Linked DNA regions of Homo sapiens: region 1 is linked to region 2. Evidence: fine-mapped QTL for protein levels in blood plasma. A gene starts in region 2. The other region holds a variant in brackets. All regions are shown on one strand. Distances are from middle to middle.

Region 1 (5,375 bases), 530 kb after region 2:
GGAAAGATCCCTCAACCTCTAAGAGATCTGATGCTATCTCCAGGTAGATAGTATTGGTAATGAATTGGAGAGGACCCAGCTGGTGTTCTGCTGCAGAATTAATTGCTTCCATAATATATGGGAAAAAACTCACACACATCTGGTGTCAGAGTTGTGTTGTGAGAATGAAGTGGCCACAATGACAGAGACATGGAGGCTAGATAAAGTGTCATGGACTAAGATTTAAAATGGCCAGTCAAGAAACTCTCCTCTGGATGTCCTACCTGCCAGCAAGAGAACCTATGCTCTGCTCCTGGGATGATGGTATTCTTTGAAGAGATTCATTTTCCACTTGGTGGTAAGTTGACTATATTGTTCCCTTCTATTCTGGAAGAGCTGGAGTTTTATCCTCTCAAGAGTGGATATCTAAGGATCGTCTTTCCAACTCGCAAACCTTAGATAATTATCGATAGAATTTCATATAACACAGCATTTGACCAGGGAACCAACTTTCTAGTCAAGGAGGTGTGGGAGTAGACCACTGACCTTGGGATCTACCAGTTGTACTGGATACATCATCACTCAGAAGCTTTCATCCTGATAGATTGTTGGAATGGCCTGCTGAAGGCACAGATGAATCACTGTTCAAGAAAAATACTCTGCAAAGATGGAGTACCATTCTTCAGAAAGTGGTACATGCATTGAAACAGAGAATTTTATGCAATGCTGTGTCCTCAACAGGAACAACAGATAAGTCAGAGAAACAAGGGGTGGAAGCAGGAGAGGCCCTACATGACACCATTGCTAATGTCTCAGTGGAGGAATTTGTGATTTCTATGTGCAGCTCTGAGCTTTGCAGAGTTAGAGGCCTCTGTCCCCCAGAAAGATACATGTTCACCAGCAAGGGTACAATTGAACTAAAATTTATGGACGCTGTATGGACCCACTGGGTTAACTGTGTCCAGAAATCAGCAGGCAAGAAGGGAGTCCTTGTTTTGTAATTGATTCTGATCTGCAAAGTTATCACCTCAACATTGAGGGCAGAAAGAATTTAGAATGGATAGTACAGAAGGGAGATGATGAATACCAATTGCAACCTGAATACCACCTCTAGCAATGAAGCCTGTGGTTCATCTCACTCTCTTTCCTCTCCTAAGTTTCTTCTAAGGAAGAGAGGCTCACTAGAGCCCTGAAGGAGCTGCTCTCTGGACATGTATGGAAAAGTCAAAGTGCAATGCACAAAAGGTGGACAATGGTAGACATGGAGGTGTGTCTACAGGAGAATGCCTGTAAAGAGAGGACTTCCCATCCAGTTGAGCAGATGTGGTCTCCTTCAGGATTTGTCTAAGCATATATTTTAAAATCAGATTTACTAAGGGAAAGTGTCTACATTAAATTCAAATTCTTCCTTCTAAACTTCTAAGAGTTTTGAAAAATGCATGCAGTTGTGTAGCCGCCAATAAAACCAAGATAAGGAACATTTTTATTACCTCAAGAAGTTATCCTGTGCCCAATAAAATCAATATAAAGAACATTTCTGTCACCTCATAGTCAATTTCTCCCCATACCTCCATATCCTGACAATCAGCGATCTGTTTTCTGTAGGTATTTTTGACTTTAAAAAGGGTAATAAATGGAATCACTCTGTATATAATCTTTTGAGCTTGTTTTTTTAATCAGGTAGCATAATACATTTGAGATTCATCTATGTCATGTTTATCAGACATAGATGAATCCTTTTTAGTAGGCATTGTATTCCATTAAATTGATGCATTCCATTATATAATGAACCACTGTTTGTTTGTGCATTTTCCTCTTTAAAGACTTTTGGGCATTTCCTGGTTTTGGTGATTATGAATGAAGCCACTATAAACCCTTGTTACCAGTTTTTCTATGAATATATGTTTTCATTTCTCTTGGGTAAATATCTAAGGATGAAATTGCAAGGCTGTTTATCAAATGTGTTTCATTTTAAAAGAAATGGCCAAACCATTTTCTAAAGTGGCTGTGTCATTTTGGATTTCCACTAATGGTGCATATGTGTTCTAGTTGCTTTATATTCTTCCCAGAATTTGGTATTGTCATTTTCTTTCTGGTAAATATTAGCCATCCTAATGGGTTGTGTAGTGGGATGTTATTGTTGCTTTAATTCAAATTTTTCTAATGATGAATAATGTTGAGCATCCTTTCATATTTTCATTTGCCATTTGAATATCTATTTTAGTGACTTATCTGTTTAAATACCTCCTCCCTTTTTACTGTGCTATTTAATTTCTTACTATTGAGTTTTGAGAGTTCCTTATGTTTTCTAGATTCAGTTCTTTATCAAATCTCTAATTTGCAAGTATTTTCTCACTGTCTATGTTTTTCTTTTTTAATTAATAGAATTTTTTTCAAAGCAGTTTTTAAGTATATAGAAAATTGAGCAAATAATACAAAGAGGTTCCATATACTCCCATCCCACCTCACAGTTTCCCCTGGTATTAGCATCTTGCATTACAGTGATACATCTGTTACAAATGATTAGCCAATATTGATACATTATTCTTAAATAAAGCCTATGGGTTATATTAGGGTTCACTTTGTGTTGTACATTCTATAGGTTTTGACAAATACGTAATGTCATGCATCCACCATGACAGTGTCATACAGGATAGTTTCAGAGTCCTAAAAATTCCCTGTGCTCTACCTATTCATCCCTCTCCCTCTTTTCGACAATCCCTGGTATTTACTGATCTTCTCAGTGCCTATAGGTTTTGCCTTTTCCAGAATGCCATATAGTTGGAAATGTATAATATATAGTCTTTTCAGACTGATTCTTTCACTAAGCAATATGCATTTAAGATTCCTCCATGCCATTTTGTGATTTGATAGTTCATTTTTATTATTGAATCAGATTCTATTGTATGAATGTATAATAGTTTGTTTATCCATTCATGTTTGAAAAATATTAATTTTTAATTACCATGGATATATAATATGTGTATATATCCCATTCATCTTTTTAAGGTCCATTTGATTACTTCTAGATTTTGAAAATTATG[A/G]ATAAAGCTACTATAAATGTTCACGTGCAGGTTTTTGTGTGGACATAAGTTTTCAACTCATTAGGGGAAATACCTTGGAGTGCAAAGATTAAATTGTACGGTAAGTCTTTTAGCTTTGTAAGACACTGCCAAACTGTCTTCCAGTGTGATTATACCATTTTGAATTCCCATCAAATGAATGAGAAGTTTCTGTTCCTATTGCTCCACATTGGTACTATCATTTGGTATTGTGTTGGTTTTTTGTTTTTTTTTTTGAATTTTAGCCATCTTAATAGGTGTGTAGTAGTATCTCATTGCAATTACCTAATCATATAGGATGTTGTACATCTTTTTATATACTTATTTGCCATCTGTATATCATCTTTGTTGAAATGCCTGTTCAGATCATTTGTCAATTTTTAAATTAGGCAGGAGAGAAAAAAGCCCCTTCCAAGAAGCCCGAATAGGAACTGCAGCTCCCAGCGTGATTGACGCAGGAGACAGTGATTTCTGCATTTCCAGCTGAGGTACCTGATTCATCTCATTGGGACTGGTTGGACAGTGGGTGCAGCCCATGGAGGGCGAGTTGCAGCAGGGCGGGGCATTGCCTCATCTGGGAAGCACAGGGGTCAGGGGATTTTCCTTTCCTAGCCAAGGGAAGCCGTGACAGACTGTACCTGGAAAATCGGGACACTTCCACCCTAATACTGTGCTTTTCCAACAGTCTTAGCAAATGGCACACCAGGAGATGATATCCTGCAACTGGCTTGGTGGGTCCCATGCCCATGGAGCCTTGCTCACTGCTAGCGCAGCAGTCTGAGATTAACCTGTGAGGCAGCAGCCTGGCAGGGGGAGGGGTATCCGCTATTGCTGAGGCTTGAGTAGGTAAACAAAGTAGCCAAGGAAGCTGAAACTGGGTGGAGCCCACCGCAGCTCAGCAAGGCCCTCCGTAGACTCCACCTCTTGGGGAAGGGCATAGCAGAACAAAAGACAGCAGAAACTTCTGCAGACTTAAAAGTCCCTGATGACAACCCTGAAGAGAGCAGTGGTTCTCCCAGCACGATGTTTGAGCTCTGAGAATGGACAGACTGTCTCCTCAAGTGGGTATCTGACCCATGTGTAGCCTAACTGGGAGACACCTCCCAGTAGGGGCCGACTGACACCTCATACGGGCAGGTGACCCTCTGGGACAAAGCTTCCAGAGGAAGGATCAGGCAGCAATATTTGTTGTTCTGCAATATTTGCTGTTCTGAAGCCTCCGCTAGTGATACCCAAGCAAAAAGGGTCTGGAGTGGACCTCCAGCAAACTCCAAAAGACCTGCAGCTGAGGGACCAGACTGTTAGAAGGAAAACTAACAAACAGAAAGGAATAGCATCAACATCAATAAAAAGAACATCTATACTAAAACCCCTTCTGTAGGTCAACAGCATCAAAGACCAAAGGTAGATATAACCACAAAGATGGGGAGAAACCAGAGCAGAAAAGCTAAAAATTCTAAAAACTAGAGCACCTCTTTGCCTCCAAAGGATCGCAGCTCCTTGCCAGCAATGGAACAAAGCTGGATGAAGAATGACTTTGATAAGCTGACAGAAGTAGGTTTCAGAAGGTCAGTAATAACAAACTTCTCCAAACTAAAGGAGGATGTTCAAACCATTGCAACGAAGCTAAAAACCTTGAAAAAAGATTAGACGAATGGCTAACTAGAATAAACAGTGTAGAGAAGACCTTAAATGACCTGATGGAGCTGAAAACCATGGCATGAGAACTATGTGACACATGCACAAGCTTCAATGGCTGATTAGATCAAGTGCAAGAAAGGGTGAATCGAAGGGTGATTGAAGATCAAATTAATGAAATAAAGTGAGAAGAGAAGTTTACAGAAAAAAGAGTAAAAAGAAACAAACAAAGCCTCCAAGAAATATGGGACTATGTGAAAAGACCAAATCTATGTTTGATTGGTATACCTGAAAGAGATGGGGAGAATGGAACCAAGCTGGAAAACACTCTGCAGGATATTATCCAGGGGAACTTCCCCAACCTAGCAAGGCAGGCAAACAATCAAATTCAGGAAATACAGAGAACACTACAACGATACTCCTCGAGAAGAGCAACTCCAAGACACATAATTGTCAGATTCACCCAGATGAAGGAAAAAATGTTAAGGGCAGCCAGAGAGAAAGGTCGGGTTACCCACAAAGGGAAGCCCATCAGACTAACAGTGGATCTCTCTGCAGAAACTCTACAAGCCAGAAGAGAGTGGGGGCCAATATTCAACATTCTTAAAGAAAAGAATTTTCAACCCAGAATTTCATATCCAGCCAAACTAAGCTTCACAAGTGAAGGAGAAATAAAATCCTTTACAGACAAGCAAA
Region 2 (5,341 bases):
CTGTAAGTGAGGGTCAGGTCCCATGTCTCATGGCAGATGAGTCCTACTGAGCCTTGACAAGCCAAGACCTTCCATACTGCAAGGTCAAGATCAGGGTCCATGGTGAGAACCACCATAAAGAGCTGCTGTTTTCCCAGGTCCTTAGGTGATTTGAGGACAGGGTTGTATCTAGGGTGACCGCCAAATACCAGGTTACCTTAGGCTTTGCTGGTTTTAGCATTGAAAGTCCTGCATCCCTGGAAACCCCTCAGTCCCAGGCAAATTTGGGCAGCTGGTTACACTAGCAGATCTGAACCTAAAACAGCTGAAGGAAGCAGCAGGAGTTGGAGTGGGGGGTGTGGAGGGTCTTTCTCAGACCCTTCTACATCAGAATAGAAGTCAGATGTAATGGTGCTGCCTGTATTCTCAGCTGCTCAGGAGGCTGAGGCAGGAGAGTCTTTTGATCCCTAGAGTTCAGGGCCAGCCTGGGCAACATAATAACACCCTATCTCTAAAAAGAAAGAAGAAGAAAATACAAAGTAAAATACAAAACTGGGGCTCTGGAAGGAATGTGTGATGTGTGAGTGAGAGGCCTAGAAGCTGAAGCTTCAGTAGATTCAAGATCATCTTCTTCTGCCATGAAAAGGGTTTGAACCAGGCGGGCACAGTGGCTCATGCCTGTAATCCCAGCACTTTGGGAGGCCAAGATGGGTGGATCACCTGAGGTCAGGAGTTCAAGACTAGCCTGGCCAACATGGTGAAACCCCGTCTCTACCAAAAAAAAAAAAAAGAAAAAAAATTTGCTGGGCATGGTGGCGTGCACCTGTAATGCCAATATTTGAAAGGCTGAGGCAGGAGAATCACTTGAACCTAGGAGACAGAGGTTGCAGTGAGCTGAGATCCGCCATTGCACTCCAGCCTGGGTGACCGAGTGAGACTCCAGCTCAAAAAAAAAAAGAGTTTGAACCTTCTTTGGAGCCAACCCAAACTGTATGTGAATCCAAGCTCTGCACCTCAGAGAGAATAAGTCACTTGCTTGGTCGTACACAGCCAATGAGGAAATCTCCCTCCTCTGCAAAGCAGAGAAAATCACATTGGGAGAGCAGTGCAGGTCAAATAAGATAATATGGGCAAATATACATAAGCACACATACAGCACATGGCATGTAGGCTACTCCTTCCCCTTCCCTCTCCAGTGCATGGCTGTTGACTGAGGGAACTGAGGAGAGAGAAATCAACGGCCCTAGATTGGTGAGGAGCAGGGCTAACAGGACCCAGGGAGAGCTGGCTTTTCTCGGCCCACCAAGACATCTACTCCAGGAAACCTTGGCTCTGCCTCTGGCTCCTGGGAAATCCACGGCAAGACTCAGTCTCCACATCCCTATATGGGACTTGCAGAATACTTGCCTTAGCTTTGTCCCAGCACTTTGGGAGGCAGATTCAGAACATCTGTGCAATTTAAAGTGTGTCTTTTCAGCAAAAGAGCCAAGCCTAAGGAGACTCAACAAGGGTTTCGGCCAATTAGGCCTGAAAACTGCTGCACATTCTAAAACCATTGATTCATCTTCCTTCTTCTCTGCAAATCCCTGACCCTTGCTCACAGTAGATCATGTAGGGCTAGACCAAGGGATGGGGGGTGCTCTGTTCCCTCAAAGGCCCCTGGCAGGGGGAGGGGGGGAATGCTGAGTCCTCAGCTGTGGAGACCTCTCCCAGGAGCACACAGAGGAGGGATCTCCTCTATCTGAGAACACATCCACCCAAGGGCATCCTGGGAAGTGGCCTGGCTTGGGCTTGAAGTGACCTGTACCCCCATAAATGGCCCAACCAGGAAAAGGAAAACAGGCTGCATTTCCAAGCACCCTCCAGTGTCAGAGCAGGAGAACGAGGAAGCCCAAGGAGCTTTACCAGCAGCCAAAAAGGTTCCTGGGCTTACCTGTGTCTTCAAGTTATCAGCATCCAGGACCCCAATAGCAGTGCCTTGCTTTGTGTAAATACCCTCTAGGAATGAGATCTCGTGCCTCTCGGGCAGTTCAGATCTATCTTGGCCAGCTCTGTGCAAGTCTGTCCTAAGATGGGGCTTAACTCTGCCTTCAGGCCCTTCACTCTTCCTTGGAAGGTTTGAAGAGTGGGTCAGCTGCCCCTTCATGGTCCCAGACTGGGCACTGACTGGGAATGGGGAGCAGAACTGCCTCTCACCCTGGTGGACACCTGAGGGTCCTCCCTGCTGCCCACCACACAGATCAGACCCTTTGGGAGAGGTGGTCCAGCCTGGGGAACAGGGCAGGAATGGGTTGAGATCACAGAGAGGGGGTCCTGATAACCCCTTACCATCTGCTGCCCATCCATCACCCTTTCTCTTTGCCTTTGGTCTCACGCGGCTTATAGAACCTGCTTAGACTGCTAAGGCAAGGCCCTCTCGGCCGCTCCACTAACTTTTCTTCTGGAATGCTTAGCTCAGAGAAGACAGCTAAGCCCCTGAAAGTCACAGAGGAAGTTGATGAGAAAAGAAAACTGCGAAGCCCAAGCCCCACCAGGACTTAAGTACCCTGGGAAAGCCTCAGGACAACTTGGGGGAAAGACACTCCTGTCCCCCATGGTGTCCTCCTGTCCAGGACTGGGGGCCGCCGGCAAAGGGGGCGTGGCGGGCGGGGAGTCCTCTTGTCACGCCCTCCTGCCCCCGCCCGCGGCTGGGAGCCTGTCGCTCCGCTCTGCGCCGCTAATTGGTCTCGTCAGGCGGCCGGCAGGAGCAGATCCGAGCCGTGTCATCCTCTTAGCGCCCTCACGCCACCCGCCGCTCCCGCCCCGTGCCCCCTCCCGCCGCGGCTGCAGTCGCCGCTACCCCCATTGTGGTCTCTGCCCTCCCCGCGGGCCCAGGGCATGCTCCGTGCCCCTGCGCCCGGTCTCGGCGGCGGCAGGCGACACTCCGCGCCGGCGGAGACATGAGGCGCTGCCGGTGGGCCGCCCTGGCCCTGGGGCTGCTGCGCCTCTGCTTGGGTGAGTGGCCGCTGGGCCGCGCTGGCCGCGTGGATGGCGAGGGAGATGGGCGCTGGCGTCACCCAGGTGGCCAGAGGGACATGGTCCTGGACCACTTCCAGAGTGGGACTCGGGCTGGTGGACGGGAGCGGAGAAGTCCTTCCATCTTCCTGGCCCATTCGGTAGTGGGGAGTGGGGTAGCGGAGTAGTGGGGAGCTCCGGGGCGCTTCTCCAGAGCTGGCATCCTAGGGCCCCAGGGTTTGGCGCCCGGACCCCCGCTGCTCTCCGCTTGCTGGGAACCAGAGCTGTAGGCTTGGTGGCAGCTCCGATGCTGCGTGGGGCAGGAGATAGTGCCCTGACTCGCGGCTTGACCTTGGCTGGGCTGGGGCACTGCCCCTCTCCGAGCGCGGGTGCAATCTGCCCATTGATGAAGGAGGGGTTGGATTGCTACCTGGGTTCTAAGCGCCCACATGCTACGTGTCCCTGACAAGCCCGAGCCCACCGGGGGCGGAGTGGGGGTCAGGGGCATCCTCTGGGCGGCGCCCCAGTGGGGTCCCTCGGTGCACTTGGGTTGGGGAGGCGGAGCGCCCTCCTGCCCAGTAGCTGGGCCTGACGCGGGACCGCGCTGGTGCGAAGCTCCCTCCTGGTGTCTGGGTGTCCTTTGCCTGGGTGTCCGTCTGTTCTGTGTTCTTTTTCCAGCTCAGGCCAACTTCGCCCCGCACTTCTTCGACAACGGGGTCGGCAGCACCAACGGAAACATGGCTCTGTTCAGCCTCCCAGAGGACACCCCTGTAGGTGAGTAGCCCTGGCACCTGCTCCCGATAGGTCTCCCTGAGGGGTGCAGGCAGACTTAGAACACAAAGTGCCCCAGGCACCACCCAAGTTGCTGCGCGCGCCCGGGGGCTCCTTGTTTGCTCTCCGAATTCCCCTGGGCAATGGCAGGAAAGAAGGTCATTGCTGCCATGGCGACTTAAGTCTGGCCAGTCCTGGAGACCAGGGCTCCCCCCCACAGACAGGGTCGCCCCGCGAGGCAGGCAGCTACAGCTGCCCCTTATGGCTGTGTGACCTTGAACAAATGTATTTACCTCCCTGAGCCCCAGGTCTCTAGGCTTTAAAACGGCCTAAGAACATCCAACTTGCTGAGATATGCAGAGAGAGGGGAGGAGAAAGGGGAGATTTCACACTCCTTCTCCCTCACTTTGTGGGTAGTGGGAACCCGGGGAAAAGGGAGAGCAGAGCAAAGTAGGCACCTGGCTCAGAAATCCCTGCAGAACCAGGTCCAGGCATCGGGGACAGTGGTGCACTGTGGGTCACCCCTCCTGCCTTAATGGCTGCTCCCATTTCCCCTTCCCTGTACCCAGGAGCCCCTCAATCTTGGATCCTGAGAGAGGAGTTATTACCAGGCTGAGCAGAACATAGGCACTACAGTTAGGCACGGCAGACCTGCACCTGCTCTGTAACCCGTGTTATAGATTACAATCTGGAAAGTGGCTGATCATCACAACCACCCGCTGTGAAGAATAAACATACAAAGAGGGAAGCAGCCAGCAGGGGTGAGGCCAGCAATGAGCACCAAGTTCAGGGCAGTACCTTTGGCACTGAGTTGAATAGTCACTTTATAAACAGCTGAATCGTTGGTCCTGAGCATCTGCCACTTTTAGGAAAAGTTGGGTCTCAGATTCTATGTCTCTCCACTGTGTTTCCTTCCAGGCTCTCACGTATACACCCTGAATGGGACAGACCCTGAGGGAGACCCCATCTCCTACCACATCAGCTTTGACCCCAGCACTAGAAGCGTCTTTTCTGTTGACCCCACTTTTGGAAACATCACCCTGGTTGAAGAGCTGGACAGAGAGGTATGGGGAGGTGTGGGGAGTGCTGCGGGGCCACTGCCTGTAGACAGACCTCGGTGGGCTGAAGTTCCCCTGGAGCACATTGGTTAGAACCTCTCCACAGAGTAGGGGATGAGGGGGCACACCCCAGGCACATCCACTCTGTGAGATCTCTGGGCCACTTCCCATCAGCAGAGTGGGCTTTACTTTCATGCTCCTCCTTCACACAGAGCGAAGAGTGGGCTCCTTTAACGAGCACCTGCCAGCCCTGCTAATCTTTTAAGCATGTTCCATTAAAAATAAATCCGTTTGCACTTTGAGGTTTCTGAAAGAAACCTCACAAAGTGATTTTTCAAGCCTGTCCTGGGAGAGGCACAGGAACTCAGAGCAGGTCAAGGCTGGAAAGGGTGGTTGGCAGTGAGTCTGAGTTTGGCAGAGCTCCTCCACTCTACACACTTGAGAACTTGCAGGCAACAGGGCATGGGCTTTTTCAGACCGCATAGCAGCCTGGTGTGTGGCTAACTGGACCTCAGCTGTGGGGATGCTGCCAGCTCGTG

Alleles and levels. Alleles are on the strand shown, and positions count from the first base shown. The strength of an association depends on the size of the effect and on how common the allele is.
In carriers of allele G in region 1, the plasma level of the protein whose gene starts at base 2,695 in region 2 tends to be lower than with A alone (moderate association).

Evidence for each region. PIP is the posterior inclusion probability: the model's chance that the variant is causal. Protein levels are from antibody-based Olink assays in UK Biobank. Linkage for the fine-mapping came from a reference panel and not from the study's own genotypes, which makes the PIPs less certain.
Region 1: its variant is fine-mapped to the plasma level of the CDHR1 protein (UK Biobank, PIP above 0.99).

What each region holds. Positions count from the first base shown.
Region 1 is chr10:84,723,701-84,729,075 of GRCh38, forward strand. No RefSeq gene overlaps it. Among named protein-coding and RNA genes, the nearest start is that of CCSER2, 400 kb to the left of the region's middle. The variant A/G (reference allele first, on the strand shown) is at 3,024.
Region 2 is chr10:84,191,843-84,197,183 of GRCh38, forward strand. It overlaps CDHR1 (cadherin related family member 1), which reads left to right and starts at 2,695. Exons shown (of 17, transcript NM_033100.4): 1 at 2,695-2,973; 2 at 3,652-3,747; 3 at 4,663-4,808. The coding sequence starts at 2,919. RefSeq lists silencers at 2,591-2,720, 2,791-2,910.